Linked DNA regions of Homo sapiens. The protein of the gene in region 1 purifies or fractionates together with the protein of each later gene. This does not show direct contact. Each region holds a gene or a part of one and is shown in the gene's direction. Other genes may lie near its edges. The genes, in order: MDH1 and PGM1.

Region 1 (16,403 bases):
GAAAGTTCAGCAAATAAGGACATGTGACTGGGAAAGAGGAAGATAATTTTTTTTTCTCCAACTGGTGTTCCTGTCTATGCCCATTTTCAGACTTATGGCAGCCTTGACTATGATGCAACTAGCCAATTTTCCAGTGAAAATGCTGAATGTTGGTCATAGCTTTTTTAATACAATCAACAAAGAAGTGCGATGACTTATGTTCTTTAGTCAAAAAGCAAGTGATGTTTGCTTATTGTACTAGCACTGGAGCATAGTGGTTGAACTCTGGACCAACCTAGGCTGGAATTACAGCTCCATTATCTTTTGATGGTGGCGAGTTAATCTCTTTAAACCTCAGTGTCTCCATCTATAAAATCAGAAGATTAAATTTGATAGTAATATAAATCTCTTAGCATTATCCTGGCACAAAACTCCTCAATAAACATTTATTATTTTTAAATTTGTGATTGGTGTCTTAGACCTTAAAGTAATTGTAATTTAAAGGTTAGGTGAATTAGTTGCTCTTTTGTGTTGTGTGGTAATTAGTGTGAATAACAAGTGTCACTTCAAAAGTCATCATTATACCTTGCATCATATATGATTATAAAAGATAAAAGCTATGGAGTTTTGACATTTAAGTAATTATTGAAACAGGAAAAGCAAAATAAATCTATTGACATTTCTAATGTTATGATTGTTAAATTAATATATTATCTTTCTCAGGCTCCTGAAATGTATATCAGTGTGATATGTAAACACTTGCAACAAGTGAAAGAATTAATGGGTAGATTCAATATGAAAAAGAAAACTTCAAACTTTGATGTTTAAGTAGCTCTGCGTATTTATTGCCATGTCCACAGATGTCATCGCAACAGATAAAGAAGACGTTGCCTTCAAAGACCTGGATGTGGCCATTCTTGTGGGCTCCATGCCAAGAAGGGAAGGCATGGAGAGAAAAGATTTACTGAAAGCAAATGTGAAAATCTTCAAATCCCAGGGTGCAGCCTTAGATAAATACGCCAAGAAGTCAGTTAAGGTGACCAATGCTGTATTTTATGGGATTTTTCATTATTAGCATTTGAAACTTATGCTTTTAGCATTTAAGCAAAACCAAAATTATTTGCCCTTTTTTCTAGTTCTGTACAATCATCAGTAAATACGGCTCTAGAGTTTTGCTTGATAAGCTCTCCCTTTCTGGGTTTTTTCTTACAGTATAGAAATCTATATTCAGAGTGCTCAAAAATATTTTTCCTATTAGTATAACGTGAAAATTTAGTATTAGTTCTTAAACATATAGAGAAGGCACAGGATCTTCTGGTGCATTTTTGCTGCGTGGGAATATTTATTTAGACATTTAAATTTGTGTGTGATTGTGAAAGGAGATAGCTAGCTGTAAGGTAAGTTTATTCTCAGGAATAGAAGATAGTGGTTTCTGAATGCTCAGATTTTCTTAATGCAGAGGAATTTTAATATGCTTGTCTCTTGAAGAATTGAGTCAGTATGACTTATAGTTCTCTCTTTGTGTTCAAACTATTTACTTTAGATTCTAATATGTCTTAATATTACAGTAAGCCTTTTTTATTTTTTATTAATTTTTTTAATTTTTTTGAGACGGAGTCTTGCTCTGTCACCCAGGCTGGAGTGCAGTGGTGCAATCTTGGCTCACTGCAACCTCTGCCTCCCGGGTTCAAGCGATTCTCCTGTCTCAGCCTCGTGAGTAGATGGGACTACCGTTGCACGCCACCACACCCAGCTAATTTTTGTATTTTTAGTAGAGACGGGATTTCACCATGTTGGCCAGGCTGGTCTCGAACTCCTGACCTCAGGTGATCCACCTGTCTTGGCCTCCCAAAGTGCTGGGATTACAGGTGTGAGCCACCACGCCCAGCCAAACCTTCTTTTATTAGTGAACTATCAATTAACTAGAACTTAATTGTCACCCAGCAAATAGGCTTGCCGGTTAAAGGTTTAACTGATTTCCATATACTTTCCTATCTTTCAAAAAAAGGTGAAAGAAAATTTTTTAAGATTTTTTAAGTTGCCCATTATAATGTTCTATCAATAACATTTCATAGATATCTGCATTTTTTGCTTTCTGTGCACTTCATTTTAAATAGTTAACTTATTTTCTGTCATCACAGAAAATAGTATAAATGAGTTTAATAGAAATCCACAGGTGCCAGTAAAAGATTAGAAGATTGTTCAGACTGCTAAATTGCAGGCTATTTGGAGGTAAAGTACTCCTTGCACAGTAATTCCACTTCTTCAAAGCGTCCTTGTTCGTGAGAAATATTTGCCAGCACTGCACTACTTAGAGACAATGAAGTATCTTGTCTACAGCTTGTCAAAAGAGGTACCAAAAAAAAAAAAAAAAAAGATATATGGGAGTCAGTCTCTGTAATATGGTTGTAACTTTTCTATAAATCTGATATTATTTCAAAATTTTTTATTACCATTTTATAAAAGATTTTTATAACTTAAAATGCATTTTCCTATGCTATATTGTATTTGGTGTTTCCCAAGCCTCCCCTGTACAAAGGCTACCTGTTAGACATTTTCAGTCAAATTTTAACATAGATTAGTTAGTAACTATATAGTCTGTAACTCTTCAGTGCCTTCCATTCCTCCTAGGTTATTGTTGTGGGTAATCCAGCCAATACCAACTGCCTGACTGCTTCCAAGTCAGCTCCATCCATCCCCAAGGAGAACTTCAGTTGCTTGACTCGTTTGGATCACAACCGAGCTAAAGCTCAAGTAAGAAAAATATATTTTAAATCTTGTGGTTGTTCAACTTTAAAACATTTTTCTCTCACTTTTAAAATAACTGAATCTGAGTTTGTGCTTTTTTCTTGTTTTTGTTTAGTAGGAACCTATTACTTTTATTAAATTAAAAGTAAATTATTATTCATTTGTTAGGGAGTCTTTAAATGTATTCTCTTAAAGGACCAGAGGCTGGACTTCCTACTTGATTTCGTCTTTAACTATATTTCAATTGCTAACTATAATGAAATGCAGTTACTAATGTTCTCTTGTTACAGTGGTTAAAAATTAGTTATACATGATGGTACATAATTTAGTTTAATTTTTTCAGATACATATAATCTCATATAAACAAAGACTTGAGCTTTGTGTGATTGTGTGGTTCTGCTTCTATTTTAGCTGCAGCTAAGCCATCAAATTCAGATTTTAATTTTTAATTTTATATTTAATTTTCATTTTATGTCTTTTTAATATTCTATGTGTATCTGTAAAATTTCCTCCTTTCACTACTTAGGAGCTAAAGTCTGTTGCTAATTTTCTTTACTCTTAGAGCCATAGATAAGTATGCCAAGGAGCCAGTGACCAGGGAATTAACAATAGCTTTTCAAAAAATTAGAAGCCAGGCAACTGATCTGAGCTAGTTTCCTAGGCTTTTTCAGATCTAACTGGTCCTGGTGCCCGTTCTTGGACAGAACCTCTTTCCTTTGCCCTAATGCTTTTCTGGCCATCCCTTCTTGTCTGTAGGTCATCACTGCTAGATAGGTCTATGAGTTCAGTGCTTTTTCTTCTAGAGAAGATAACTTTAGTTTCAAAAAAAAATTGTTGTTAACCAGAAGATGCTGTGAGGTCTAAGCTGAAGCACTACTGCCCTAACCTGAGAATTAATAATCCTTCAGCTCTGGAATGCCTAGTGAAAGAGAAAAGAATATACATTTGTTAAGCATCTACTGTAAATTGAATGCTATACATGTAATTTTCCATTTAATTTTTATAGTAACCATATGGGTATCTCATATTATCCCTGCATTAGGTAAGAAAACTGAGGCCCAGGGAAGTCAGAGAACCTGCTCAGAGTCATACAGCTCATAAATTACGGAGCCACCTTGATTTGCCTGACTCCAAACCCTTATGTATGTTCTTACCTAATGGTATCAACTAACCTTAGTCCACTTACTAGCTCTGTGATTTTGAGAAAGTATATTCAATGTTTAAAATGTAATAATTGTATCTACCTCAGAGAGTTCTTATGAGGATTAAATAAGATCTGTTTTAAGCCCTTAGCATGGTGCCTGCACATAGTAAATACAAGAAAGGTTGGCTGCTATTATTAGTTGATTTCTTCTTTCTAAGAAGCATACAGCCTAAACATTCCTAATTTAGAGGGTTGTTGGATAACAACCCTTAAATTTTTAGCTTAAAGTGCAAATATTCCCTGAGAGGCTATAGGCTGTGAGCTGGGTCTGGTGGTAGCTGAGAACGAATAGGAGTTTGTTTGAATGGCAGGCAGTTTGAGTTCTGTGGGACAGTTGTAAAGGAAGAGATATTATACATGTTACAGTTGCAAACTCTGGATTGCCAGAAAGTGACTTATTTAGTTCCTACAACAAGAAAGTTCCTACAACAATGACACTAACAACCACTTTTTGTTGTTTCACCTGAGGCTTTGGTGGAGACAGGCATTGGAAAATTCTGCTTCCAAAGGTACTTCAAAGAGATACTTTGTCCTGGTGCCTGAAACAGTTCTCACTGCAGGGCTCAAGTCTGAATGAGCAAAGAGGAAAGAAAGTGCTATCTCCTCAGACTTTAACCTTCACTTGGGGACATGTTCTTTGTTACTCCTGGGACCTTGGCTAGGCATTGTTTCAGCATGTCAATCTGGCATAGTGAGAGCTTTTAGGGAGTCATTGAAGAAGCACTTTCTTCCTCTAGAAGAAGTTGTTTATCCAGTGAGAAAAATAACAAACCCAAAGATAAGTTTTTCTTACAGGACTGGTTGCTAGATATTTTTGTCTTGGAATTCAGAGGCCTTAGCGACTTAGGGACTGTTTAACACCTGCAGAACTTGCCTGTGTATTTGCAAACCAGTGCTGTATTTATGTCTGCTGATAAGGTAATTTGACATTGATACCAGATAAGGTAATTTGACAATGATACCAGTTAGCTTGTAAGAAAATTACTAGGGCTGGAGAATTAATCAAAAACTTTTAACAGACCTATGTGACAGACATGAGTGTCTAAGGGAGCAAAGAGCTGTTATCCTGGGTATGTATTAATTTAGACTAATTGTGACATGAATCATATTAAGAAACTATATCTGCTGGATGCAAAGTACCTGGCCTTTGCTGTCCAGACAGAACTGGATTAGCTCAAGAGATAGAAGGAGCAAGAGGAGGAGGGCAACAAGAACAAAGGAAGGCATGGGAGCCAAGGAGGACTGAGGGTGGAGAGGCCTAGAGGCATTTTGTCTTCACTGTACTTGGGAGCATTGAAGCAGACATTCAGGGAAGTTATAGGCTCTAACTTCCTGGTAATATATATCTTGAGTTAATTGTTCAAGGTATAAATTTATCTTTTTCTATATACCATACCAGCTAAATTTAAGTATAAATATAAGAGCAGTTTCTTCCCCAGTTCTTTCTGGTCATGGCAGACGTAAAAAATGGTACTCATTGAACAGCGTGCCACTCTACCCTATCCCACAGGCTAAGCAGATCAATAGCTGGGTACCCCAGAAACCCAACTGTGAACTAATTTGTGGAGACTAATGCAAATATTGTAGATAATAGTCCTAATACTTGCAAGACTTGCAGGGATTAGATCGGTCAAAAGTGATTTACAATATCACAAACATAAATTTTTAAGTAAACTTTTAACTATTTTAGGATTTAAGAAAGCAGTCTCAACTAGTTTAAGAGTGGGAGTGAAAGTAAAGACAGTTTACTTCTTACTTAACTGAATAAATTAGTATGAAGACCAGTCGAGTCATTGCAGACATTTTAGGTAATGGCCTTTTTTTTCATCTTTATCCTTTTCGGTTGGTTGGTTGGGGTTTTTTTTTTTTTTTTTTTTTGCTTTTTATTTTGAAATAATTTTAGACTCAAAAGTCGCAAAAAAATAGTACAGAGAAGGCCCATGTACCCATCACCCATTGATGGTACCTTACATAACTACAGAGTATTATCAAAACCAGGAAGTTGATGAACTACACAATACTATTAACTAGACTTACTGAAGTTTCACCAGTTTTATATTCACTTATTTTTTTCTGTGTCTTTATGAATGATTCTATGACATTTAATTACAAGTGTAGATTCCTGTAACTGCCCCCATAGTCAAGGTACAGAATTTCTTCATCACTCACAAAAGAACTCCTTCATACTCTCCCTTATGGTCACACCACCCTCTGTCCCTGACATCATTTTTCTGCACTCCACCTCTATAATTTTGTCATTTTGAGAATTTACAAAAGTGGAATCATGCAGTAAGGAACCTTTTGAGACTGGCTCTTTTTCACTCAGTTTAATGCCTTTAAGATCCATCCAGGTTGTTGTTTGTTTCTTTTTGTTGTTTTTCCACTTACCCCTTTTATTTATTCCATTGCCTATGTAAGACATAATACAGTTTATTTAACCGTTCTTTTTTTTTTTTTTTTTTTTTTTTTTTTTTTTTTTTTTTTTTTGAGACAGAGTCTCGCCCTGTCGCCTAGGCTGGAGTGCAATGGCACGATCTCGGCTCACTGCAACCTCCGCCTCCCAGGTTCAAGAGATTCTCCTGCCTCAGCCTCCTGAGTAGCTGGGATTACAGGCACACGCTGCCACACCCAGCTAATTTTTGTATTTTTAGTAGAGACGGGGCTTCACCGTGTTGGCCATGATGGTCTCCATCTCGACCTCCTGATCCTCCCACCTCGGCCTCCCAAAGTGCTGGGATTATAGGTGTGAGCCACCGCGCCTGGCATATTTAACCATTCTTGAACGACATTTGAGTTGTTTCAGTTTGGAGCTGTTATTACCCTTATTTTAAAATTTTCCTTAAAATATCAAAGTGTATTCCTTTTCTTACATGGTAAATACTCAAATGCTTTATTTATGTGTGCTAAAGCTACAGACTCTGGCACAACTAGTTTCTTCTCCCATTCTTTTTGGGACACAGAGGAAGGAAGAATTGCCCACAATGTCACCAAAACAGATCAGCTTCTTAAAATATTTTTCCACATTCCCTTCTGGTTCATCATAAATTCTGTTGTCTAGTTAGGAACAAATTATACATATACCTGATCATAATTTATTTTCTGCACATAAACTTATCAGACAAATAACAAGCAGGCTGATTTTATTTAAATCTACCAAGACATTTCTTTTTTTTTTTTTTTTTTTTTTGAGACAGTCTCGCTGCATCGCCCATGCTGGAGTGCAGTGGTGCGATCTTGGCTCACCGCAACCTCCGCCTCCCAGGTTCAAGCGATTCTCCTGCCTCAGCCTCCCAAGTAGCTGGGATTACAGACATGTGCCACCAAGCCCGGCTAACTTTGTATTTTTAGTAGAGACAGGGTTTCTCCATGTTGGTCAGGCTGGTCTCGAACTGTCAACCTCAGGTGATCTGCCCGCCTTGGCCTCCCAAAGTGCTGGGATTACAGGCGTAAGCCACCATGCCCAGCCCAAGACATAACTTTCTAACCTTTTTTGTGGCTACTGTACTACATGTGATTGCAAGGCATTGCAGGACCCTAAAGTGCTTTCTGGAGTTATAGCTAGAGATTGTTACATATGTTATAATTTTAGAGTGTATATATGTGTGTACACACACACACATACACATATATAAAACCTCTTTCCTTCAGTTTCCTGATATATAAAATGAGGACAGTCATATCTTGGTAATTTGAGTCCTATCCAACTCTAAAATTTCATATTTAGGGTTATTTGAAAATTAATTTCTATATGGTATATAATAAAAATTTTACCTAAATATAAAGTGCCTAAATACCTGATTACTCAGAAGCACTGAGAAGACATCTCCAAGTAAACATTAACAGTGAAACAAAAGATCACATTTACATATTCAAGAAATAGTAAATTGATAAATAATAGTAACGATTAATGTTTTATGTTTGATACACCTACTGTACTAATAAGTTAACCACAAACTATGGGATGCTTCATACCCTTAAACATTCTACTCCATAAGGTTTCAAGTCCACAGTTGTTACCACTGTTAAGCTGTTGTAGGAAATTGCCAAGCAATAAATTTACATTTTTTACAAGTCAATATAACTCTTGTGTTCTCTTGAAATTTCAGAAGCTTTTTATCTTTATTTAAGGGCATTTGTCAAAACAGGTCCCAATTGGAAATAAAAACCATTTGTCTCAGTAATGTATTTGTTTTCAATTTAACTAGATTGCTCTTAAACTTGGTGTGACTGCTAATGATGTAAAGAATGTCATTATCTGGGGAAACCATTCCTCGACTCAGTATCCAGATGTCAACCATGCCAAGGTGAAATTGCAAGGAAAGGAAGTTGGTGTTTATGAAGCTCTGAAAGATGACAGCTGGCTCAAGGGAGAATTTGTCACGGTAAGAAAAATCTGTGAGCCTTCTTAACACTGAGCGTAAAGAACTCTTGAGAGACTCTTAGGACAGAAAACCTTAAAGAGGGCAGGTCTTTCACAGTTGCTCTGATGACTGCATACTTTCGGGATCATAGTAAGCCAGTCATGATCTAGTGTGATCTGATGTGACAGCAGTTGAGATTTATACCAAGATCCATGTCTTTGTCTGACCTATGATAAACTTTGTATGGAGATACATAGTTTCCTTTTTCCAGAAGGATTGGTAAGGCTGACATTGGGTTGTTGCATGATTTTGGAGGGGAAACATTAAGCTCTGGTCATAGCTTTTCACCCCAAGGTCGACTTGGAATTAATGAAAACTTTGCTATCATGACCAAGTAATACTGCTGCCTTCACCTGCCCCCTTCCCAGACTGTGCAGCAGCGTGGCGCTGCTGTCATCAAGGCTCGAAAACTATCCAGTGCCATGTCTGCTGCAAAAGCCATCTGTGACCACGTCAGGGACATCTGGTTTGGAACCCCAGAGGTAAGGATTTAGTGATTTGCACAGGTCACTCTATTTTATTTTTGTTGCCTGATGATATAATATAAAAAGAATATAGCCTTAGCAGTCAGTCAGGTTAGGTTCATTTCTCAGCTCAGCTGCCTATTAACAAGTAAACTTCGGGGTTTGTTAGCCTTGACCTTTCTGAGCTGTTTTGTCATCTTTTACATGACATTACTATTATACACAGGGTTGTGAGGGTTAAAGGAGATTGCACATGGAAAACACCTGGCACAATGCCTGATACATAGTAGGGGTGAATTTTTTTCTTCTATGCCACAGCTTCCTCATCTGTAAAATGAGGATTAGGTTTCCCTGGCCTACTTCACATATGATATGGAAGCGTGGAATGAAATAATATCCATGAAAGTTACCTTGTCACCAGTACCTGGTGCTGATGATAGTTCCTTACACAGTAATGATGTTATGAACATAGTAAGAAAGGGTCACCTGGTTTAATTTTATTAGTTCATGTGTCAGTTGTGTAAACTAATCATCATGAGTATGTGAAACATTGTTATTTTCAGGGAGAGTTTGTGTCCATGGGTGTTATCTCTGATGGCAACTCCTATGGTGTTCCTGATGATCTGCTCTACTCATTCCCTGTTGTAATCAAGGTAAGGTATTTTGGAGCTATTTCCCTTCTTTGAGGAAGTAGTTATATGTTTCTCTTAAGAATGGTATTATTGGCCAGGCACAGTGGCTCACGCCTATAATCCCAACACTTTGGAAGGGCAAGGTGGCAAGATTGCTTGAGCCCAGGAGTTCAAGACCAGCCGGGGCAACATAGTGAGACCCCCTCTCTGCAAAAATAAAATAATTAGCCGGGCATGGTGGCACACATCTGTGGTCCTAGGTTCTTGAGAGGCTGAGGTAGGAGGATCACTTGAGCTTAGGAGATCAAGGCTGCAGTGAACCATGACAGTACCCCTCCACCAGGCAACAGAACGGGACCCTGTCCCCCAAAAAAGAAAACAGAATGTTATCACTTAATCTAGAAAATTGTTCCTTTACTAAAATAGACATTTTTCTCAGCTTTAAAACTATATGTATTTCAGCTTCAGGTCATTGAAAGTTTTTATGATTGAAATTAATCTGGAAAGGAAGATTCAGCTCTTCCCACTAGACACTATGTTATTATGCCTCTAGTATTAGAGACCTACAAATAGTATATTTCTAAATGAAGCAATGGTTTTCAGTGTTGTTGTTCTTTATTATAACTGTGCTAAAGTCAGTCATTTTTGAAGTTTTTTTTTTTTAGATTCAAGGGGTTTAAAATTCAAGTGTTGAGTTTTTATTAGAATTATCTATTAATTAAAATCTGGATTTTTATTTACTTTAGAATCAGACTTTAAAACGATATACCTCTAAATATAAGTTCAAACAAGGTTGTTGCTTACTGAAAGATCAGTTCCAGTTTAAATCTCTTATTTGCATTATTTTCAAACAGAATAAGACCTGGAAGTTTGTTGAAGGTCTCCCTATTAATGATTTCTCACGTGAGAAGATGGATCTTACTGCAAAGGAACTGACAGAAGAAAAAGAAAGTGCTTTTGAATTTCTTTCCTCTGCCTGACTAGACAATGATGTTACTAAATGCTTCAAAGCTGAAGAATCTAAATGTCGTCTTTGACTCAAGTACCAAATAATAATAATGCTATACTTAAATTACTTGTGAAAAACAACACATTTTAAAGATTACGTGCTTCTTGGTACAGGTTTGTGAATGACAGTTTATCGTCATGCTGTTAGTGTGCATTCTAAATAAATATATATTCAAATGAAAGTGACTCAGACTCTGTTTCTAGCTAATATTTAGTGTCTATTCAGGAAGCAAACTTGCGGACAGGCGCAGTGACTGACACCTGTAATCCCAGCACTTTGGGAAGCTTGAGATGGGTGGATCACCTGAGGTCCGGAGTTTGAGACCAGCCTGGGCAAATAGTGACACCCCATCTCTACTAAAAATACAAAAATTAGCCAGGCGTGGTGGCACAGGTCTGAAATCCCAGCTACTTGGGAGGATGAGGTAGGAGAATAGGTTGTCCCGGGGGGCGGAAGTTGCAGTGAGCCAAGATTGCGCCACTGCACTCCAGCCTGGGCTACGAGGGAAACTCCGTCTCAAAAAAAAGAAGAGGACTGGGCGCGGTGGCTCCCGCCTGTAATCCCAGCACTTTGGGAGGCAGAGGCGGGCGGATCACTACGTCAGGAGATCGAGACCATCCTGGCTGACGCGGTGAAACCCCATCTCTACTAAAAATGCAAAAAATTAGCCAGGCGTGGTGGCGGGCACCTGTAGTCCCAGCTACTCGGGAGGCTGAGGCAGGAGAATGGCGTGAACCCGGGAGGCGGAGCTTGCTGTGAGCAGATGGCGCCACTGCACTCCAGCCTGGGCACAGAGCGAGACTCCGTCTCAAAAAAAAAAAAAAAAGAAGAAAAGAAAACAAACTCGAATGTTTCCCAGGTTGCCTAAATAATTTTGAGATAGATATATATACATTTTTTTAACCAGGGGAAGGCAGTAAGGCTAGAAAGATAAAGCATAAATCTCGTATTTAAATAGAATATAGAAACCCACCTTGTGATAATGAATCAGTCTATTTCAGCATATATTTGTAAACATTACCTACGTTGAACAAATACCATATTTTTAAAATCTTAAAGGTTTACGCTTTGTAGATAATTTGATTTTAAGGCTAGCTACTAATATTAAATAAGTTGCAGATAATATTGTTAACAGTGTTATGCCATTGGATGAAATTAGAATATTTTCATTATATTAAAAAAATGGTAATAGGTTTTCACTGGAGGTATTACTTTTTAGCAGATAAGGAATCATTTATATTTCAAAACCACTAAATACCACAGAAGTTTATGCTAGTGTTAGGAGTAACACTAGCATAGTGTTATGATGTTAGAAGTAAGTAATAAACTAAGCTTATTACTAGAAAAATAGTGGAGTTTTTTTAATAGTCTTGTTTTTTCCCCAAACCTATGATGGCAGAAGGCATTTTCTATCTTTTCATCCTCATGCTTAACACACTGTCCACATGTAATAGGCAATATTGTATTAATAAATATCTCCAGGCCTAACATAGTACTCTTCATGGATGCTCAAATATTTGTTGGTTGGACTTATTTAAAATTACTACTTTGGGAGGCCAGGGCAGGAGGATTGATTGAAGCCAGGAGTTCAAGGCTAGCCTGGGCAACAAAACAAGACCCCATCTCTACAAAAAAATTTAAAAATTAGCTGAGTGCAGTGGTGGATTCCTGTAATCCCAGCTACTCCGGAAAGTAAGGCAAGAGGATCACCTAGGCAAAGGAATTCAAGGCTGCAGTGAGCTAGGATCACGCCACTGCACTCCAGCCTAGGCAACAGAGCGAGACCATCTCCTTTTTAAAAAATTAAAAATTACCTAGATCATTTTATGATGTAGAAAAGAAAAAGCAAGTTGAGTAAAACTACCTTTAGGACTACTATTAATCGGAAGCATAAAAACAAAATTTCATATAGAATGAACAAAATTTTGTATAAAGTAAGTATGAATTGTACCAGTTGTTATTTTCTTTCAGTTCCAAACACTCCCTTCTATATTCTCGTGACATTAGGACTGGAATTTGGCAAGCCACATTTCTTTACCAGCTGCTCCTTGTTAAAAATGTGCTAATGGGCCAGGCGCGGTGGCTCATGCTTGTAATCCCAGTACTTTGGGAGGCCGAGGCGGGCAGATCATTTGAGGTCAGGAGTTCAAGACTAGCCTGGCCAACATGGTGAAACCCTGTCACTACTAAAAATACAAAAATTAGTCGGGCATGGTGGCGCATGCCTGTAATCCCAGCTACTCAGGAGGCTGAGGCAGGAGAATCACCTGAACCTGGGAGGTTGCAGTGAGCCGAGATCATGCCACTGCACTCCAGCCTGGGTGACAGCAAGACTCCATTTCAAAACAAAACAACAACAACAAAATATATATATATACACACACTAATAAAGGGTACTAGAGGGGGACTGGATGGCAGAAGAGAAAGAAAACATGCTCTTACTCCTTCCTGTTGGTTTCCTCTATCATTACCTTCTATCCACTTTATATAAGCCAGAAAAGAAAAAAACAAATGAATCAAACATATCTTTAGAAGAGCAATTAGTTGGAAGCATGAAAACTAATTTCATGTAGAATTAAAAAGAAAATCTTGGCTGGGTGCAGTGACTCATGCGTGTAATCCCAACACTTTGGGAAGCTAAGGTGGGAGGATTGCAGACCAGCCTGAGCAATGTAGTGAGACCCCATCTCTACTAAAAATAAAAAATTAGCCAGGCATGGTGGTGCACACCTGTAGTCCCAACTACTCGGGAGTCCGAGGTGGGAGGGTCGCTTGAACCCGGGAGGTCAAGGTTGCAGTGAGCCATGATCATGCCACTGCACTTTAGTCTGGGTGACAGAGCAAGATTGTCTTTTTAAAAAACAAAAGAAAATGTTATATGAAGAAAGTATGTATATATGAAAGTTATTGGAGAGATCTAGATTACTTGTAGAAACAAGTAATTTTTCACCAACTTTGCCTTTGAAGCATGGGTTTCGGTTTGAATATTCACACTGTGAAACTGATTATCTCTTTATGCCATTTTTTTAATGCTCTTCACTTCCATCACCTTTACCAAGAGAACAAAGCATTTTGTTGCTCCTTCTCTTAATGGAGTCCAGGCCCAGGAAGTTGTGTCTTCAAGCAGCATGATAATATGTGAAAAGCCTATGCCTTTCCTAAGCATTTTTACTAGTACTTGAGGAAATGATACATGGATGCATTACAGGGCAAAAGACATTACATTTTAAGCCAATAAAGTTAGATTAAGAAGCTTTCCAAAAGAGGTACAATCTGTATAAACCTAAACCTTAAGGGAATATTGACCTCTGCAGATCATGACCCTGGTAATGTTTCCTGAACAACAAGTGGATAGCCAGTGCAGCTTTATTTAATTCTAATAAAACATAAAGAAGGAGTGGGGGAAAAACCCTATAATTCCACTGCCAGTTAAATCATAATTTAAATAAAAGTTATATATACATTAGAAAATCAATGAAATGGTGTTAAATGAAAACCAAATTTTTGTTTATCCTTACAGGGAAAAAAATACACATATTTATTTTGAGAATTAAAAAAAAAAAAGGAATACATAGTGAAAAGAAGTGTTCTTTGCTCACCTGACTCCCACCCATTTAAGCCTTGTTTTTGTCCCATGGCCTATAGCTCAGAAACATTCAATGCATAACCAAAGTATGTATGTAAATATATGTGTGTGCATGTAACCATCCCCTTTTGTACATAAATTATAACACACTGTTCTGCACTCTGTGTTTTTCCTTTAGTAATACATCTTAAAGCTATATAGATACTTAGCGTCAGGCACAGTGGCTCATGCCTGTAATCTCAGCACTTTGGGGGACCCAGGCAGGCAGATCGCTTTGAGCTCAGGAGTTCGAGACCAACCTGGGCAACATGGCAAGACCCCGTCTTACAAAAATAAAATAAAACAATTAGCCCAGTTTGCTGGCTCACACCTGTGGTTCCAGCTACTTGGGAGGCTGAGGTGGGAGGATTACTTGAGCCCCAGAAGCAGAGGTTGCAAAGAACTGAGATCATGCCACAGCACTCCAGCTTAGGTGACAGTGCAAGACCCTGTCTCAAAAAAAACCATAAAAGCTATATAGATACCTGCAGAGCCACCCCATTCATTTTTAAAGTTATGTAGTACTCTGTTGAATGGATATACCAAACTTTATTTAGCCAGTCTCCTATTGATGGACTTTTAGATTCTTTTCAATCTTTTACTACTATAAAGATGCTGGACTATTTTTGTAAGTTGGTTATTTCATACATGTACAAGTGTATCTGCAGGATAAATTCCTAAAACACAGCAGATTTTTTTTAATACTGTTGAATCTAGTTTGTTATGAAAGCAGCAGCCTTCTGGATTTGATATTATATGTACATTTAATACCATTTTAACTGTCCTTTCTAACCCCCCACTTTTTTTTAACAATACCTTGATTAAACCAGCCACAATATTTCTCAAGAAATGTTGACCAGGGGAAAAATATATTAGAAAGTACCTTTTTGGTATGTAAGCTTAAGAATTTGACTATGAAAAACAAAAAGCAACAAAAATAAGTTCCTAGTTGTCCTTGTGAAATTGGTATGAGAACTCATCATCTTTATGATCTTGATGGCTTTAAACAAACCTCAAAACAAGAAACATATCTGTTTTGATTTCTGAATATTGGTGGGTTCTTAGACAAACTAAAATGGTTACTGACTCAGTAGAAATATATACGCTTTCATTCCAGTAGTGTCACCTAATTGGTATCATCCAGCACAATATAGTGACAGTTCAATACACATTGTTGAATAAATGGGTTCTTGTCAATTTGCCCTCTAACTCTGCTGGGAATAGACTCGTATTCTAAATCAAACTCATAGCCTGACCTGGGTAGCACAATTGAGTAAAGCACTTTTAAGCAGAATAGACATCTTTAAAACCATCCAGTTTTCTCATGTCCTTACCACCATCACCCTGGTCCAAGCCATCATTATTTCTTCATAAAAGACTTCTGCAATAACAATGGAAATGGGAGCTCAGTTTGGAGTCTATGCCTCCCCTCTCTCCCTAGTCCAATCCAGACTTGCTCTAGAGTTACTGATTAACAACGACATTTTACTTCACGTTTTTTGAAGAATAGACCAACTCATGGGCTTGGAAGTCAGACAAGCTTGGATTCCAGCTCTGACTCTTTTTAGGTGTCCTTAAACAACCTTTCTACGTTTTGACTCCCTCAGATACAAAATGGGGATATTAATAGTACAACCTTTAAAATGTTTTTGTGAGGATTATTTAAATGGAAAGCACATGGTAAGGGCTCAATTTACTTATTGGGTTTGTAGGGGATCGAAATACGCCACCCCAAAATATGCCACTTTAGCATAAGAAGTATTTTGAGCTAAAGTCATTTCAGATTCAACAGATACAGAAGCAGCCTTCCCAGCGCCTCCCTTGTCTGACTAAAAGCAGAAACTTCTGAAAATAAGGACTGCCATAAATCCTCTCTCCTAGGGAAGTTTCATGACCATGAAGAAGACAGAAAGTTGGCACTGACATGGACATATGAAAACAAACCTTATTCCTTTTGTTTCCCCCATACACTTACCTTTCCACAGTTTACCACCCTTGAAAGCTTAAAACCTTTTCCTTTGTCTTGTCACATCTAAATGGGCTGGTTTTTTGTGAAGATGCTATATAAACTCAAATTCTAACCATCGTTTTCAGTTACTCATCACTGAGTTTCTCCCACATGTATGTGTACTACATGTGTTAGTAAATTCTGTTTTTCTTTTGTTAATCTGTCTTTTGTCAGTTAGATTTCCAGGGCCCGAGATGGAGGCTAGGACCTAGGCAGGTAGGGGAAAAATGTTATTTTTTTCTCCCCATAGGTTTTTTCCTTTTCTTTTCCTTTCTTTCTTTCTTTTTTTTTTTTTACTTCTTAGCATCACTTC
Region 2 (16,403 bases), on another chromosome or scaffold:
ACTCGCCATTTCACTGCTTCTGCCCCCTCCACTACTCCAGTAGAATTGCTCTTGCCAAAGTTACTAGGGACTTGCCAGTTGCTAAATTCATGGAATACACTCTGGTCTAATCTTATTTGGCCTTTCTGCTGCATTTGGCAGTGCTGATTTTGTACTCTTGTAAAGTTCTTCCTCCCTTGGCCTTGCTTACTCTCCTGATTCTACTCACACTTTTTGGAAGTTCCTTCATGGGCTGCACATTGACTATCCCCTAGGTTTCTTTCTTCTTTCTTTCTTTCTTTTTTCTTCTTCTTTTTTTTTTTTTTTTTTTTTTGAGACGGAGTCTTACTCTGTCGCCTAGGCTGGAGTGCAGTGGCGCAATCAGCTCACTGCAACCTCTGCCTCCCAGGTTCAAGCAATTCGCCTGCCTTAGCCTCCTGAGTAGCTGGGATGACAGGCATGCACCACCACACCTGGCTAATTTTTATATTTTTAGTAGAGATGAGGTTTCACCATCTTGGCCAGGCTGGTCTCGAACTTCTGATCTCAGGTGATCCACCCTCCTCGGCCTCCCAAGGTGCTGGGATTACAGGCGTGAGCCACTGCGCCTGGCCTATTCCCTAGGTTTCTACGCTCAGGTTGTTCTCTGATTTTGTTCACTCTCTCTACTCACTCGGGATTTAAATATGCTACTCTTTCTCTTGTGATATGATTCAGTCCAGATGGCATCTTCAGAAACCTTTCTTGACACCCCATCCCTACCACTCTTCTCCACCTATTAAGTGCTCCTTTCCCATAGATAATTCTAGAATATATATATTAAATTCTAGTGAAATTTTCCGTTTACATGTCAACGGCCTCCAACTAGAGAGTAAGCTTCTTTAAGTCAGACCTGTGTTTTACCTGTATCTGCAATGCCTAGGACTATGTAGCATTCAATGAATTCTTGTTTATTTGCTCTGAACTGTGAGTCACTTTTGTATTCTAGCACTTGATTTAAAGCCAGCATGTAGCTGGTGACCAATAAATTTATTCACATCAAACATTTATTATGTGCTTGCTTTGCCTCAGACATTGTACTTGAGATACAAAATATTTTTGCCCTTGGGAAAGACATAGTCTGGGAGGGGTGGTATACAGGAGTAAGCAGACAGCACAATGTGTCAGGTGTTGTGATGGAGGGATGTGCAGGTGTCTTTAACCTGAGGGGCTGTACTTGGGAGGGGAAGATGAAGGGAGGGAGGCTCCATAGAGGGGTGGTAGCCGAATTGAGTCTTAAAGAATGACTTGGAGTTCCCAGAGTGGGTTTGTCTGGTAGGAGGAATTCTTAGCAGAATGAATACAAATTGAGGGAGTTTAGATTAGATACAAATACAAATTTCTAGTCCTTTTTTGTTTCATCCACAAAGGTTGGGAATAATACATACCTGAAGAGCCTGTTGTGAGGATTAGATGAAACAACATATTTACAAGTACCTCACTTGGAAACTGTTCGAATGATAGGTGTGTTATCAATGTTTTGTTGGTATTAGGACACAATCCAACGTGATGCAGATATGAGCCACCCAGATGGTCTCCCACCTTCCTCTAATCCTCAACAGCCTCAACCAATATAGAGGGGTTCCGTGTTAGTCAGAGCCCAATTGGGTACAAATGACAAAAACCTTACTTGGATTACTCCAAGTGAAAAAGGAATTTTATTGGCCCATGTTACTGAAAAGTCCAAGAGAATCCCAACGAATTCTTTAGTTGAAACTATTCCTGGTCTCTAAAAATCACTTCTGGGTCTAATGATCTGCAAATGACCAGCATCAGAAATTGAGGAGAGTTTAAGCTCACAAATGAATGTGTGCATGTTTTGAAGGATGATTTATCACCACCCTAAGCAAAATAAAATAAATACCTTTGTGGGAACTTATGAGCAAGGAGGGTATTTGTTGTTGTTGTTGTTGTCAAGTTACAGGGATTCTTTTGTCACGGCTCCTTTGCTACTCATTTGTGCAAACTGTGGAGCCCCTTCTCAGAATATATATTTTTAAAAATTTGAGACATGGTCTTACTCTGTTGCCCAGACTGCAGCACAGTAGCGCGATCGTGGCTTACTGCAGCCTCAGTCTCCCCAGGTTCAGTTGATTCTCCCACCTCAGCCTCCTAAGTAGCTGGGGTCTACAGGTGCATGCCACCATGCCTGGCTAATTGTTTTATATTTTTTGTAGAGATGGGGTTTCACCAAGTTGCCCAGGCTGATCTCGAACTCATGGGCTCAAGCGATCTGCCTGCCTCGGCCTTGCCTCCCAAAGTGCTGGGATTACAAGTGTGAGCCATCGTGCCGGGCAGAGTATTTTTATTTTTAAGTGAATAAAACAAAATACAAACCATTACAAAGGAAGCAAAATTATATTGAAGTATAATCAAAATATTAAAAAACCAGATTTGTGATATATCAAGATAATGCTTCTTTACTGACATAGGAAGATTTGTGGAGGATTTAATACTGCCTTACTTCAAAGTAGTGGTGAGTATAAATGATGTTTTGAGACGTCTGCAATCTCAGTATTTTGAGATAACTATAATAGGATATGAAAATATAATTTTTATTGATGATAAATTCCTAGGTAGTAGTAGTAATAGTAGCAGTAGTAGTAATAATACTGTGGTTTGCTTCCTACATTTATAATAAAAGGAGGTGCTAAATTTCAGTTAGATGTTAGTGAAAATAAAGATTGTTTTGTTTATTTTGTCATTCATATTCATGGATCCCATTGAATTCTACCCAAGGACCTCTTGAGGTAGGGGAAGGGGATGTAAGCATCCCAAGTTAAGAACCCCACACTAAACAATGATCCTTTTTTAGCATCAGGTGATGCCTGCACCAAAATGGACCTCAAACACATGACCCAGAGGTTAAGGGTCTCATGTTCTCAGAGCAAACTAGTGGGACTTTGCAAACTTCGCCTTATAGTGGAGGAACTCCACTGTCTCCCGCTTGAAGTGAACCACCCTTTTCTGAACTTTCATGAGATCCATCTGCAAACACTGCTGAAGGAACATGTTTCTGGCTATAGCAGTTCACATTTCTTGAAAAGGAAATAAAAGAACACTGAGCAGGAAGGGGAAGGTTTTGAGACTCTTGGGTAGTTGGAGTTAGGTGGAGACACCTTGCTACTTTAACTTTAAACCTTATATCCCTGGGGCAGGGATGACTTGGCAGAGAAACACCTTCAAGTCACTTTTTTTTTTGAGACACTGTCTTGCTCTGTTGCCCTAGGCTGGAGTGCAGTTGCAGGATCTTGGCTCACTGTAACCTCCGCCTCCTGGGTTCAAGTGATTCTTCTGCCTCAGCCTCCTGAGTAGGTGGGACTACAGGCGTGCACCACCATACCCAGCTAATTTTTGTATTTTTAGTAGAAACGAGGTTTCACCATGTTGGCCAGGATGGTCTGGATCTCTTGACCTCATCATCCGCCCGCCTCGGCCTCACAAAGTGCTGGGATTACAGGCGTGAGCCACCACACCCGGCCCAAGTCACTTTTTAACATGCTGTAACCCCCACTTTAAAAAAAAAAAAAACCACTTTTTAATTATGGTGGGGCCGGGCATGGTGGCTTACCGCACTTGAGTGGGTCACTTGAGCCCAGGAGTTCCAAACCAGCTTGGACAACATGGTGAAACCCCTTGTCTACAAAAAATAAAAAAACTTAATCTGGTGTGGTTTCGGGCGCCTGTGGTCTCGGCTACTTGAGACACTGAGGTAGGAGGATCACATTCACCCTGTGAGGTCAAGGCTTCAGTGAGCTGTGATTGCACCACTGCACTCCAGCCTTGGCGATGGCAAGACCCTGTCTCAAAAATAAATAAATAAATAAATATAAAATGAATTATGGTGGGCTTTGAACAATTGTTCTCCCCTTGTTTACACTTTCTGATTTTGAATCAGCACTGAATGCCAGTATGGATAACCTATTGTCCTTTCCATCCAGGAGCATACAATCTTTTGGGGGAGATAAGACAGAAGAAACACATAGACATACAAAGAACAGAATTAGAAAACATGCTGAGCTCAGCGAGAGAGAGAACATTTTGGATTGGGAAAGAAGAGGTGCCTGCACCTAAAACCAATTATGTCTTGAAGAGCGGATAGTGTGCGATAGAAGATGGGGCTACCCTTCAGGAAGGGGACCTGCCGAGAGAAGTGAGAAAGAGAGAATAGGCAGGACTCTTTTTTAGAGCCGGACACTTAGTCACTAAACAATCTTTGTTACATAAAATACTTAAATCAGCTTGCTTGGGACTTTTTCTTTCTTGGCTTCACTAATGCTCTTGGTGAAACATCTTTTTCCTTTTTCTTTTTTAATCAAATCTAATGCTCATGAAATTTTGTAGAAGAAAAAGAAAAACGTTCTCCCTTTCTGAGATAGAGGGTTTGTTTTGTTTTTGTAAACAAGATAACAGGGAAGAGTGCTCTACTGTTTTGGAAAGAGTGACTCATTCAATAAATATTTATTGAGCACCTATTAGGTTCTCGGTACTACGGATACAACAGTGAATTGAACAAAGTTTCTGCTCTACAGAGCTGTGGGGTTCTCGTTGAGCCTGACAGATGATAAACGTGTCAAATGAAGATAAGTTCTCTGAAGAAAAATAAAACCCAGTAAAGGGGACAGCATTAGAGGATGGGCTGCTCTTTTTAGTGCAGCAATTGGGATGTCTGATAAACCTCATGAGAGCAGAGACCTGAATGAAGTGAAGGAGTGAGCCATGCAGATATCCGTGAAAAGACTTCCAGACAGAGGAAGAGTTAGATGGAAAGGATAAACACATATAATCATTTAATGTTATAAAATTATGCCTCAGGTAAATAAATGTAGCATACATTTTATCGTACAAAGGGTCCCAATATACTATGACATTTTGCATATAGATTATAAGTATTATTCTATTATAAATTTATCTTGGGATAATAAGATGTGTAATCAACATTGATCAAATATTTAACAATAATTTTTTTCTCTCTTGGACTCTAGGGTAGGGAAAACTTTTCATCTACCCTCCTAGGTTATATACTGGGGGCTTGCAAATTAAATGTAAAAGACAAATGAGCAACAAAAAGACATTTGTGGGAGTTTACAGAAAAATGTGACAGGAGGCAGTTAGACTTGGGGGCCTATACATCATCTCAGTAGGGGAAGGCGGAAGAGGAGAAGAGCATTTGCTGGAAACCACGACTTTAGGAGAGATAAATCAGCCCTTAAGAGACTAGATAGGAGATGTGGTAGTTTTATGCCAGTGTCTATTTAGTTATGGTAATGAGTCGATCTTCCCTGGTTGTGAAACTCCAGAGTTCCTTTGGGGCACACTGCTTTTAAGACAGATGAAGGAGTTTAGTAAAAAGCCTATTTTTAAATGACTGGCTCAAAATAATTTTTATGTCACAGTGGTGTAGTCTGGACCCCTTTAGACTTTAGAAGAGCTTTCAGCAGATTGATTTGAGTGAGCTACACTTCTAAGAAAGTGAAGCAGGAAAGTTTGAACTGATCCCTTTATTCTCCTCCAAGTTCCCTTGAGGCCCACACAGACATAGCCAGTTATTCTGCTGACTTTGAAGCTGTGCTCACAGTTGGGATCCACCTTTGAAAAATGGCTCCTGAGTGTGTTAAGTAAGTAATGGCTAGCCGAGGGCTTCAGTTGGGAGGACTGCGGAGAAGACTTTTCTCCCCTGGGGTCCTCAAAGGGGAAAGAAATCACAAGGGGGCAGCATAGGGAGTTGTTTGGAAAGGGTGAGAAGGCTGTGCTTAGTGTTGGGATACGCGGATGGATGTAAGCTGGGTTTTGTTTTGTTTAGTTTTTTAAACTTCAGCTGTTGGAAGTCCTCCTTCCCATAGCTTCTCCAAATCACCACTGAGCTGATTCCCCAAGGCATAAAGACAGCCCTGAATTAACACAGTGGGGAATGCTAATTAAGTCATGCCAATAAAGATTTAATCATGAATCAGAAACACTTGGAAAATTATGTTTTCATATTGGAAAGATGTTCTTTTTTTCTCTATGAGTACCCCAAAGTGTTTTTGAAGGATGAAATGCGATAGGTGGTAGGACAGAAATATTTGGTTGACTTGTCCAGTATGCTAATGGTGTTGGAACAGGGACTCCAGTCTTCTGATATTTCATCTGGTTGGTCTTTTCCATAAATAAATATATCCCAGAGCAAGTAGTTCTGGGGATTGTTATAATATGCTGGTTAATAGCATGGAGAAACTGGCTTGGGCAATGTTAAGTAGGAGTTTCAGAGCTTTTAATATATGAGTACTGAGAGTTTGTAAAAGGACCCCAAACAGAAGAATTTTGGGAAATACCAATCTATACCATGCTGGGTTGATAGGACCATCTATATTATACAAGAATCTTCTCAGATTTAAGTTTCTTCTTTTTAAACTGCCATTAAGGGCATGCAGGGAAGGTGAAATTTTGTTTTAATATCCATGTATACCATATGGCTTATTTTGGCAACTAATATATGAATTTGTTCTTGGCTGCTTTGAGTGTGATTGATTCAGCCCAATAAGTATTTTCTAACCAGGTCACCACATGTAGAGTTATGAGGTAAGTGACAAAAGTCCTTCTGACCAAATATTAGTCCTGTATGTTGTACTCCAATGTGCTCACAAGTGAATTGAAATGTTGCTCAAGAGTGAATTGAAATGGCTACTACATTGTGTGAGTCCGGAGGGCTTAATCTGCATGGTGTCATAGCCATTTGGGGGCTAAACCGACAAGTGTGAGGATTGTAAACTGGCAGGGAGCTCAAAATGAGCTGATTGGTGAAACTTCATGGTGATCTCGTAGGTTGCAGCAGAGAACAATACAGGCCCAGTCCTCACATGCTTGGGACTTAAGGTGAAGGTTTGTGTTGGAGGCTAGGTGGGTTACGGACAAGCAGAGAACTGCCACAAGGTGCTGTCAGCACTGGGATGGAGGTGAGCAAAGGAGGCTAGGAAAGCATAAAGGAGGCGTGCCTGGTTCCAGCAGAGGGAGTAGGGAAGTGACAACTAAAACCAGACCTGAAGGTGAAGAGCAGAGAGGAATGTTCCAGGCAGAACCATAGGTGAGAGAATTTGGCATGTTTAAGAGAAAGCTCCCCTCACTGCCCCCCAACTCCGTATTTTTGTTTCATACTCTGCAAGGAGCAACTGCACTAAAAATGTACCTCATGTTTTCTATTTTACAAGTTACTGCCACATGCATGGCCTTATTTCCTGTCTACAACAAACCTTTCAGGTGTCCCAGGTCACAAAGTCAGGAAAAGAGCCTGGGAACTGCCCCCACTCTTCCTAGAATGTAAGGGGTGTTGGGCCATGTTCCAAATACCAGGTTCCCACTGAGAGTGGCTGAGGATAATGCTAATCTGGGCAGTTTTAAGCAGGAAATGAGTATGTGGAGTAGGGAAGTGCGGAGATCTTGCTATGTAAGTCAGAGCTATTTTTCTCACTACTGGGTTGAATTAAAACCAGTTTCTGGAATCACAATGTAAAACAAGAGGCAAAATCCACCTCGAGGCACATTGGTTTTTATTCCTTAAATGTTCCACATAAAAAATGAAAACTGAGTCAGTAGAACAGAATCGTAAGACCAGATGGCTTCCCAGGATCAATGGGGGCAAGCCATTAACTATCATCTAGTTAATAGAGGAAATTGCATTTTACAGTGGGATGGGTTCTAGAGTTCGAGTGGAAGATGAAACTTCAGTCAAAATCATCCTTAAAGTCCCATAGGAAAGTACCACATTGGAGAACAACATGTAACACAACAGGTATGTCTTTAAATAGCAGAAGTGCACTCAAGATACCCATACTTTGAGAAGCACGTGGGGACTAAGACTGAGCAGGGGCCTGTGGTCACTGGGTGAAATGGTGGCAGAATTGCCCATGCTGTTTAAATTTCACTCTTGTCTTCTTTGTCTCCCTGGAAGTTCTATATACAACAGTTACATTTGTGCAAGATAAATACTTGTATGATGTGACTACACTGCACATTCTTGATGCTACTCAGAGTGCACATATGAGAATCATCTCAATCATGATTCATCACCTGCAACTTGGAGCACTTATGCCCTGTGCCTTTCTACCGGGCTTATATTTGAAATCTCAGATTTCCCTGTCAAGGCTTGATCTTACCGCTGCAGATCTGTTTGGACCACTCTGAAAGAGTATACTTTGAGGTGCCTTCCAAAGTGAATTTGATGTACACCACGTAGCCTATAAGGAATTTTTACGATTTTATAGGTTCAATCAGCTGTTGTAACAGACACTCAAAACAACAGTGGATTAAACAAGATGTTTTTCTGTCTTGTGGAATATTGTGGGTCAGCAGGCCAAGACTAGCATGATGGATCCATGATGTTGGGACCCAGCCTCTTTAATCCTGTTGCTCTGCCATCTTGAAGGTGTTGCCCTTGCCCATCTGGTTGCAGATGGCTTCTACTACCACATCCATGTTTCATCTAGTGGGCACAGGGGAGAGATGGGGCAGAGTGTCTTCCCCCTTTAAAATCAGGAAATTGTGTACCTGACTATTGCTCACAATCCACTGGGAAGATCTAACATGCAGGCCACATTTACTTGCAAGAAGGGCTGAAAATGTAGACTCTATATTGAGAGGCATATGGCCCCCTGAAAATGAGTGGTTCTGTTACCTTAAAGAAGAGAAGGAACACTAGAAATATGTGCCATGGTCCACCTCTTTGGCCATGAAGACAGCCATGCCCATTGTTCTTCCTGCCCATTGAAACACAGCACTCCTTTCCAGTGGAGGCACCCCAGATTCCTTCCAGTTACCCAGTCAGTACTCAGTGTTCATAGTTCTCTCCATCAAGCCCATGTGTGGCTCCTTGTGTAAAGTTAAAGACAAATTATCAGGCCCCCTGTCCCCACTACATAACTATGTATAACTATATATATAGGGAGGGAGTTACATAACTCTGTGTGTGTGTGTGTGTGTGTGTGTGTGTGTGTGTGTGTGTGTAAAGAGAGGGGATATAGTTGTATATTTACATATGTAGACCAGTCACTAGCCATAGGAGTGTTCACATTGTCGCATTGTCCTGGCTGGGAATGCACACTCCTGTCCTGGCAGTGGAGTAGGTCCACAGGGAACCCTGGTTCCACCCTCAGGGAGGAACTCTATCCACCTGCTCATGTAAATATATTTATTGAGTAAGAGTGGACATTGGAGAAGGCCCTAAAAGTCCTTTTGGGGCTGTACAGCTTATGTAACCTGCTTCCTGCTGATGAAAGTTGGAGGAAAAGAGGCAGGGGTGACTTTTGCAGGCCAGGCTCCTGGCTCTTTCACTGTACAGTACCTTCACAAATTTAGTAGTCTTCTGGCCTATCCTGATCAGTTCCATGTGCTGGTAATCACAGTGAAAGTTCTCACCTAGATAGTTTTGAAACCTAAAAACTTTGACTTGTATTTATTGGATGCTTTGTGCCTCCCTTGATTTCTCTATTACTGATGGCTACCTTGAGACAGGTGGAAAAGATAGGCTAGTACGAAGGCAGTATCCTTAATCTGATTTTGCTGGTGGGCTAGTTCCCATTGTCTGACAGAGAATCCTGGGGAATATTTTATTTATTATTATTTATTATTTTTATTTTTTTGAGACAGGGTCTCACTCTGCCATCCAGGCTGAGTGCAGTGGTGTGATCATGGCTCACTGGAGCCTCGAATTCTCAGGCTCAAGTGATCCTCCCACCTGAGCCTCAGCCTGGGACTACAGGCATGCACCACTACACCTGGCTAATTTTTTGTATTTTTGTAAAGATGAGGTTTTGCCATGTTGCCCAAGCTGGTCTCCAGCTTCTGAGCTCAAGCAATCCACCCACCTTGGCTTCTCAAAGTGTCAGAATTACAGGTGTGAGCCACCGCACCTAGCCCTGGGAAAGATTTTAGACACAGCCTTCTCTGCTAAGCCTGCTGCTTACTGTATAGCTGATTTAACTTGGTTTCACAAATAGTTGTCATCTCAACTCTGTGATGGCACAAATTCCTGGACTTGGACGGTATCATTTGCAGGCCACAGTAAAAACAAAAAACAAAACTTCCCTTAGCAGAACCCAACCTGCCTTTATTTCTCTCTGCAGAATGGCCAGCCCTTGCCTGAGCTCCCGTCTTTATTGTAGCAAGAGGTAGTTGACAAGCACTCATGTTCTGAATTCTGCCAACCATTTGTCTCAAGCTACAAATTTGGTTGGCCAGTGGTCTGCCTTCCATGCTATCAGAGGCAACAAATTTTTCCATGCCATAAAAAGCATGCTGATGCCAATGTTTTAGATTCTGTTTTGGTACAGAATACCAACTTTTTTGTTAAAATGTAGGTTTGGCTGCTGTTAGCAGAGTTTCCAAATAAAGTACTTAAAAGTTGATAGTAATGGAACCCTTCCTTTCATATCCTGGGTGTGGGCAGTCCAGGGCTGATGTGTGGCTCCATTATACACAGGGACCCATGCCCCTTTTCTTCTGTTGTGCAGCCTTCCCTGGAGTGTTGCTCTTATCTAGGTCCGGGATGGCTGCCCACCACCTTACCTTCATGCCAGCTAACATGCCAACAGGGGAGAAAGATGGAGGAAGGCACACCTTTCTCAGAGATTGAACATATCTGTTGCACTCATGTCGCATTAATCAAAACTTAGCTAAGCCTACCTCTAGCAGCAAGGAGGGCTGTGAAATATCAGTCTTATTCTGGGTGTCATCTGTCAAGCTAAACATTGGGGATTTGACAAACCAAATGAAACAGAGAATTGATGTTGGGAAACAACCAATAGTTTATACTGTCCTAAGCATTCCCTCCAAATCTGGTGAAAATCACTGTCATTTTCAAGTGGTAGTGTTACAGAGAGAAGACAGAACTTAATTTTATATGGGCAGCTAGATTTTTGGAAGAGACCTTGGCCGTCAATTATTCCAACCCCACTTTAGAAAGGAACCAAGGCACAAACATTGCCATTGTACGAGTCTTAAACTACTTTATTGAGGTATGATTCACATACTATATAATTTACCCACTTAAAGTGAATCATTCAATATTTTTTAGTCTATTCACAGAACTGTACAACCATCACCACAATCTAACTTCAGAATATTTCCATGATCCTAAAAGAAACCCCTTACATTAGCAGCCAATCTCCCTTGCTTCCCTACCCCTTCAGCCTTAAGCAGCCGTTAGTCTACTTTCAGTCTCTACGTTTGTGTGGGTAGACTTTACATGGACCAAATGTCCAGTTTTGGTTGCCAGGCAGGGGAAGTTCCATTTACCAAGTGAAACCACAGGATCATGAGAAGCAAAGTAAGGGCTGTGTCAGGAGCAGTGGAATTAGTATCCCATGCTTCTGTGTGCCTTGTCCTGAGCATGGGAGGGTTAAAGATGTCCTCATTCGCAAGGAGCTGCCAGTTGAATGGGGAAGATTGACACATGCAAAACCAGACAGTAACCATTAGGTATTATAAAAGCTAACACAGAAGGAAAAAGAGATGGTCATGGGAGCTCAGGGCCAGCCTGGGATAGGCGAGTGTGCCTGGGATGGGTGGTGTGCCCAGCGAAGGCGTTCTGCAGAAGATAAGTGTGTCTTTCTTGGCAGACTCTCTGTCCACAGCAGACCAGGCTGTCAAAAAAAGGAGGCGACATTTCTCCAGAATAGCTTCTTCATTTTCGTGAGGGTAAGCAATCAGATTTCTTTTTTTATAAACATATTTGAACTTATATATCCAAATTAGTATCGTACCCTGCCAAATCGCCACTCTGGGAACCATGCACGCACTCCAGTGATGCGTGTAGTGCTCAAAGCATTTGAAACTCCTCTATGGGAATTATCTTTCAGCCAGTCAGTTTATGGGTCACCTAGGAAAACCAGTCACATTATTTTATAGTCATGCCTCATTTTTCACCTAAAGCGATGTAACAAGATTTGATCACCCACTTTATTCATTAGACATGGCTCCAGCCAATTTTTGTCTTTTTCCAAAGTTCAAATCTATTCTCAAAGGATGAGATTTGTCATGACTGAGGACTTTCAAAGAAAGTGCCGCAGACAGTAAAAACAGTTACCCACTAAAAGAGTTAGAGAGGTGTCAGCATTGTTTGAATAAATATGTTGTTTCCCAAGGTGATTGTTTTGAAAGAGATAATGCTAATTGAGATGAATGTACTCAACTGGCATAACTGTTTAAAGGGAGTTACTGTATTTTATACTGTTCAAGCACATTGACCTGTAGAGAGGAGCTTAAGAGACAGTTCTTGCTGAGGCAGAGTCTGGCATTCTGCTTTCTGCAGCCTACCGCAGTGGCCTGGGGATACAGTTCTCTTCCATTCTGGTAAACGTTTAAACCTGCTTTGGTGAGGCATTTAGGAGCTGTACAAAATGGGAAGGTTTGTTAAAATATAAACCGACAAAATGGCCAAATACCCGGCCCTGACCGAGGAAGAGAGTCCTGTCAGCTCTAAACCATAGAACTTGAAACCCAAATGCTAAGCCAGTGCCCACCTCGACTGTGTGAAATTGTCCCCTGACTTCAGAGGCCAGAAAATGGATCTGGGATGGTATAACTGGGTGGGGACAGGGAAAGGCCTTTTGATTTAGCAATAAAACTATTAGGTTATACCACCTCCATGGGGACTTTGAAAAATGCATTCTGTGGAACAAGATGAAGTGCTTTTTAAAGGAAGATTTTGAAATGAAGCAAAAGGGAAATCAGTGTAGAAAACTCAGATGGAATCAGGGATAAGACTGGCACCTGTCATGAAAGCCCAGCTTCCTCTCTGGGCTGGGCCACACAGTTCACTCTAACCGCTTTGTGGTCAAATCCATGAGAAAATCACTTACCCCACAGTTTGCCATAGACAGCTCCTCCATATGTAGAAGTGGTATTCGAAAGAGTAATCGTAATATCTGCCTTGAAAGATTCTTGTGAGGATGAAATAAAATTTGTGAAGCACTTGTTATAGGGCCTGACATTGTAACTGGTTAGTAAAGAGAAGATTCTGATGATTCTATGATTATTATGATTATTCCAAATACTGAGGCCATTGGAAGGCAGAGGGAGGGGATAAGAAGATGGGCCTAGGGAGGGTCTTTGTGCCTCTTACCACCCTCACTTTTTGGCTGTCCTATCCTGCCTCTGTCCACACATTATCCCTTGGACTTTTTCTGTCAGGCAGAGGTTCACAGTTGCTCTAAATCTCAGCCACAGGCCCATCAATCTGAGATCTTCACCTGTTTTGAGTCACCAGCTAGCAGTGGCTAGCTAAGGATGGATATTTCAGGATGGATCTGTGGAATGGTTACTGGGCCCAGGCCAATGTCTTGCTGCAGATGGGAAGCTGCAAGAAATGTATGCTGGCATTTCTGGAAACCTCCTGGGACATGTGAATGTGTTCATTTGACAAGCATTGCGGAACACTTTTGTATGCCAGGCACTGTGCACAGTGGTTGGGGGTACAGGATGAGTAAGACAAAGTCCTTGTGCTTAGGGTGCTCATGCTGGTGGGGGAGACAGGCACTCCATGGGTAGTTACAACAGGGTGCGAATTCTATTACAGTCAGTCCTTGACTTACCATGGAATGATGAATTACAGTTGTCCAACTTTACAGTGGTGTAAAAGTGATACACATTCAGTAGAAACCATACTTTGGATTTTGGATTTTGATCTTTTCTCAGGCTAGCAAAATGCAGGATGATACTCTAGGAGTGAGCCACACCTCCCAGTCCACCACGCGGTCCCGAGGGTAAACGACCAATAATGTACAATACAGGGTACTGTATTTAATAAATTACACGAGATCTTCCAACATTTTATTATAAATTAGGCTTTGTGTTCAATGATTTTCCCTAACTTTAGGCTAAGGTAAGTGTTGTGGGCCCATTTAAGGTAGGCTAGGCCAGGCCATGATGTTTGGTAGGTTAGGTGGATCAGATGCATTTTTGACTGATGATATTTTCAACTTACAATGGGTTCCAAATGGAAGTCAGACCACTTGGTGGCTACCTAATTTTACCACATAACCTCAGTTCATAGTAGTGGGTTGGAAGTGAAGACTTTGAGATTTTGCTTCAAATTTCAGTTTCATAATTAATTGTACAATATCATGTATACTGCTTAACTTATCTAAAACTGTTTTCTCACCAGTAAAGTGGGATTAATTCCAATATATGCTATATCAGAGAATTTTATGAGGATAGAATGAAATAATGTACATACAAAGGTTTTGTGAATTCTAAGGTGCCACTCAAATATGAATTATTTGGTTGTTTTTGAAACTGTAATGTTGCTTCAGGAAAGTCATTCCACTGGACTAATGTAAGCCTCTTGCCAAAAACAAATCTCTACACACAGTTTCGTCTAGTTCTCTCAAAGTCCAAAATTCAGATGTGCTAAAGAATAATAAAAAAAAAAGTTACAGGCGTTTTGCCATTTTGAGAATCTTAGTGGAATATCAAAATTACATCTTTTATGTTAAAATTTATGTTAAAAGTATATATAATCTTTGGTGTGAGATCTGAGTTTGATTCCTGGACATGGTAGTTATTAGCTGTTTAATCTTGGGCAAATTGCTTGAGCTGCTTCTTTACTCATTTGTGAAATTAATATGTTGGGGGTTTTGATGGGAAATACAGACACTTTAAACTTCTTGCAAAAGGTTTCCCGGCCATTACCCCCTCATTTTAACTTCTCTTCTTCCCAGATTTGCCAATGACCTGTCAAGATGCTCTACACCTATTAGCTTATAAATTTCAGAACAGAAATATCTTTCTTACAGAGAGTGTTTCATGCACAGAGCCTGGGGGGAGGGAGAACTGTTCTGTATAACTTTAGGTTTTCAGTAATATGTCGTCAGCCTGATACTTAAGTTTTCTCAAAAGAACACAGCAGCCAGCCCCAAAGTAAGCAAAATTGATCCTGAGTAGCTTAAGTACTGGTTACGGTGTTTGGTGTTTGTATGCCAGGTCTACCCCTTATGGTTTTAGGATAGTGGTTCTGGTGAATAGTTGATTAGGTCCACTTGCTCCAGAAATCTCCGTGAATAAGATTTGATGGGGTGCTTTCCATCCCTGAAACATTTACTGAATGTTTTCTTATTGCTTAATACAGTGCTGTGTATTTGGGGCATGCAGTAGTGCATAAAACGGTCTCCGCAAGTGGGCATTGCAATATAGTGTGAGAAGTGCCTCGTTAGGGTGTATTGGGGGCCCTAGGGAGGGGAACACGCAGGGGTGGTCAGAGGAAGCTTCCCAGGGGAGATGTGTTTAAGCCAAGTCCTGAAGGATGATAAAGAGGAAGCCAGGAAAAAGTGTAGACATGGGGGTATGAAGAAGACATTCTGTGTAGTGGGAGCAGCCCTTGCAAAACAAGGAGATCCTTGTAGAAAGTAAAAGCACAGCCTTAGACTGTAAAGTAGGACTCATCCTAACTCCAGCATTGCAGGAAGGGAAGAGGGAGGCCGCCGGTGACTCAGCTGCCTTAACCCCTGAGGTCACACAGGTCCTTAACCCCTGAGGCTTTCTTTTATACACAGGCCAACATAAGACCCAGTCTGGGAATTATCCTAAGGCCCAGCCTGGGAATTCTCTTATGGCCCTGAGGGAAGGGAGGATTTTGGAGACAGGATCAAAAACCTAAAAAGCTATCTGTAGGCCGGGCGCAGTGGCTCTCACCTGTAATCCCAGCACTTTGGGAGGCCAAGGCAGGCAGATCACAAGGTCAAGAGATCAAGACCATCCTGGGCAACATGGTGAAACCCTGTCTTTACTAAAAATACAAAAATTAGCTGGGTGTGGTGGCACATGCCTGTAGTCCCAGCTATTCGGGAGGCTGAGGCAGGAGAATCGCTTGAACCAGGGGAGGTGGAGGTTGCAGTGAGCCGAGATTGCACCACTGCACTCCAACCTGGCAACAGAGCGAGACTCCTTCTCAGAAAATGCTATTTGTAAGGAGGATTGGGTTGAAGTATTTGCCCAGTAACATATTAAGGCTATCAGGAGCTGGACGTGGTGGCTCACGCCTGGCCTGTAATCCTAGCACTTTGGGAAGCCAAGGTGGGTGGATCACTTTAGGTCAGAAGTTCGAGACCAGCCTGGCCAACATGGTGAAGCCCCATCTCTACTAAAAATACAAAAATTAGCCGGGCATGGTGGCGCGTGCCTGTAATCCCAGCTACTTGGGAGGCTGAGGCAGGAGAATCGTTTGAACCTGGGAGGCAGAGGTTGCAGTGAGCCGAGATCACACCATTGCACTCCAGCCTGGGGAACAAGAGCGAAACTCTGTCTCAAAAAAAAAAAGGCTCTATCAGTTTGCTCTGACTCTCTTTCTTTAACCAGCAGGTTACGTGACACGTGACACCATCTGCATGTGACCTACTGTCTTCACTGGGACAGGC

What was found.
Region 2: the proteins of MDH1 (region 1) and PGM1 fractionate together in Homo sapiens (co-fractionation; 2 studies listed by BioGRID). This does not show direct contact.

Annotation. Positions count from the first base shown.
Region 1 is NC_000002.12:63,596,560-63,612,962, forward strand, and holds the end of MDH1 (malate dehydrogenase, cytoplasmic), read left to right. Parts: intron 1-839; coding exon 840-1,015; intron 1,016-2,610; coding exon 2,611-2,733; intron 2,734-8,136; coding exon 8,137-8,313; intron 8,314-8,720; coding exon 8,721-8,834; intron 8,835-9,379; coding exon 9,380-9,469; intron 9,470-10,302; coding exon 10,303-10,428; coding exon of another isoform or gene 10,429-10,485; 3' UTR 10,486-10,638; downstream 10,639-16,403. UniProt on the Homo sapiens protein: Catalyzes the reduction of aromatic alpha-keto acids in the presence of NADH. Plays essential roles in the malate-aspartate shuttle and the tricarboxylic acid cycle, important in mitochondrial NADH supply for oxidative phosphorylation.
Region 2 is NC_000001.11:63,595,964-63,612,366, forward strand, and holds part of PGM1 (phosphoglucomutase-1), read left to right. Parts: intron 1-16,403. UniProt on the Homo sapiens protein: Catalyzes the reversible isomerization of alpha-D-glucose 1-phosphate to alpha-D-glucose 6-phosphate. The mechanism proceeds via the intermediate compound alpha-D-glucose 1,6-bisphosphate.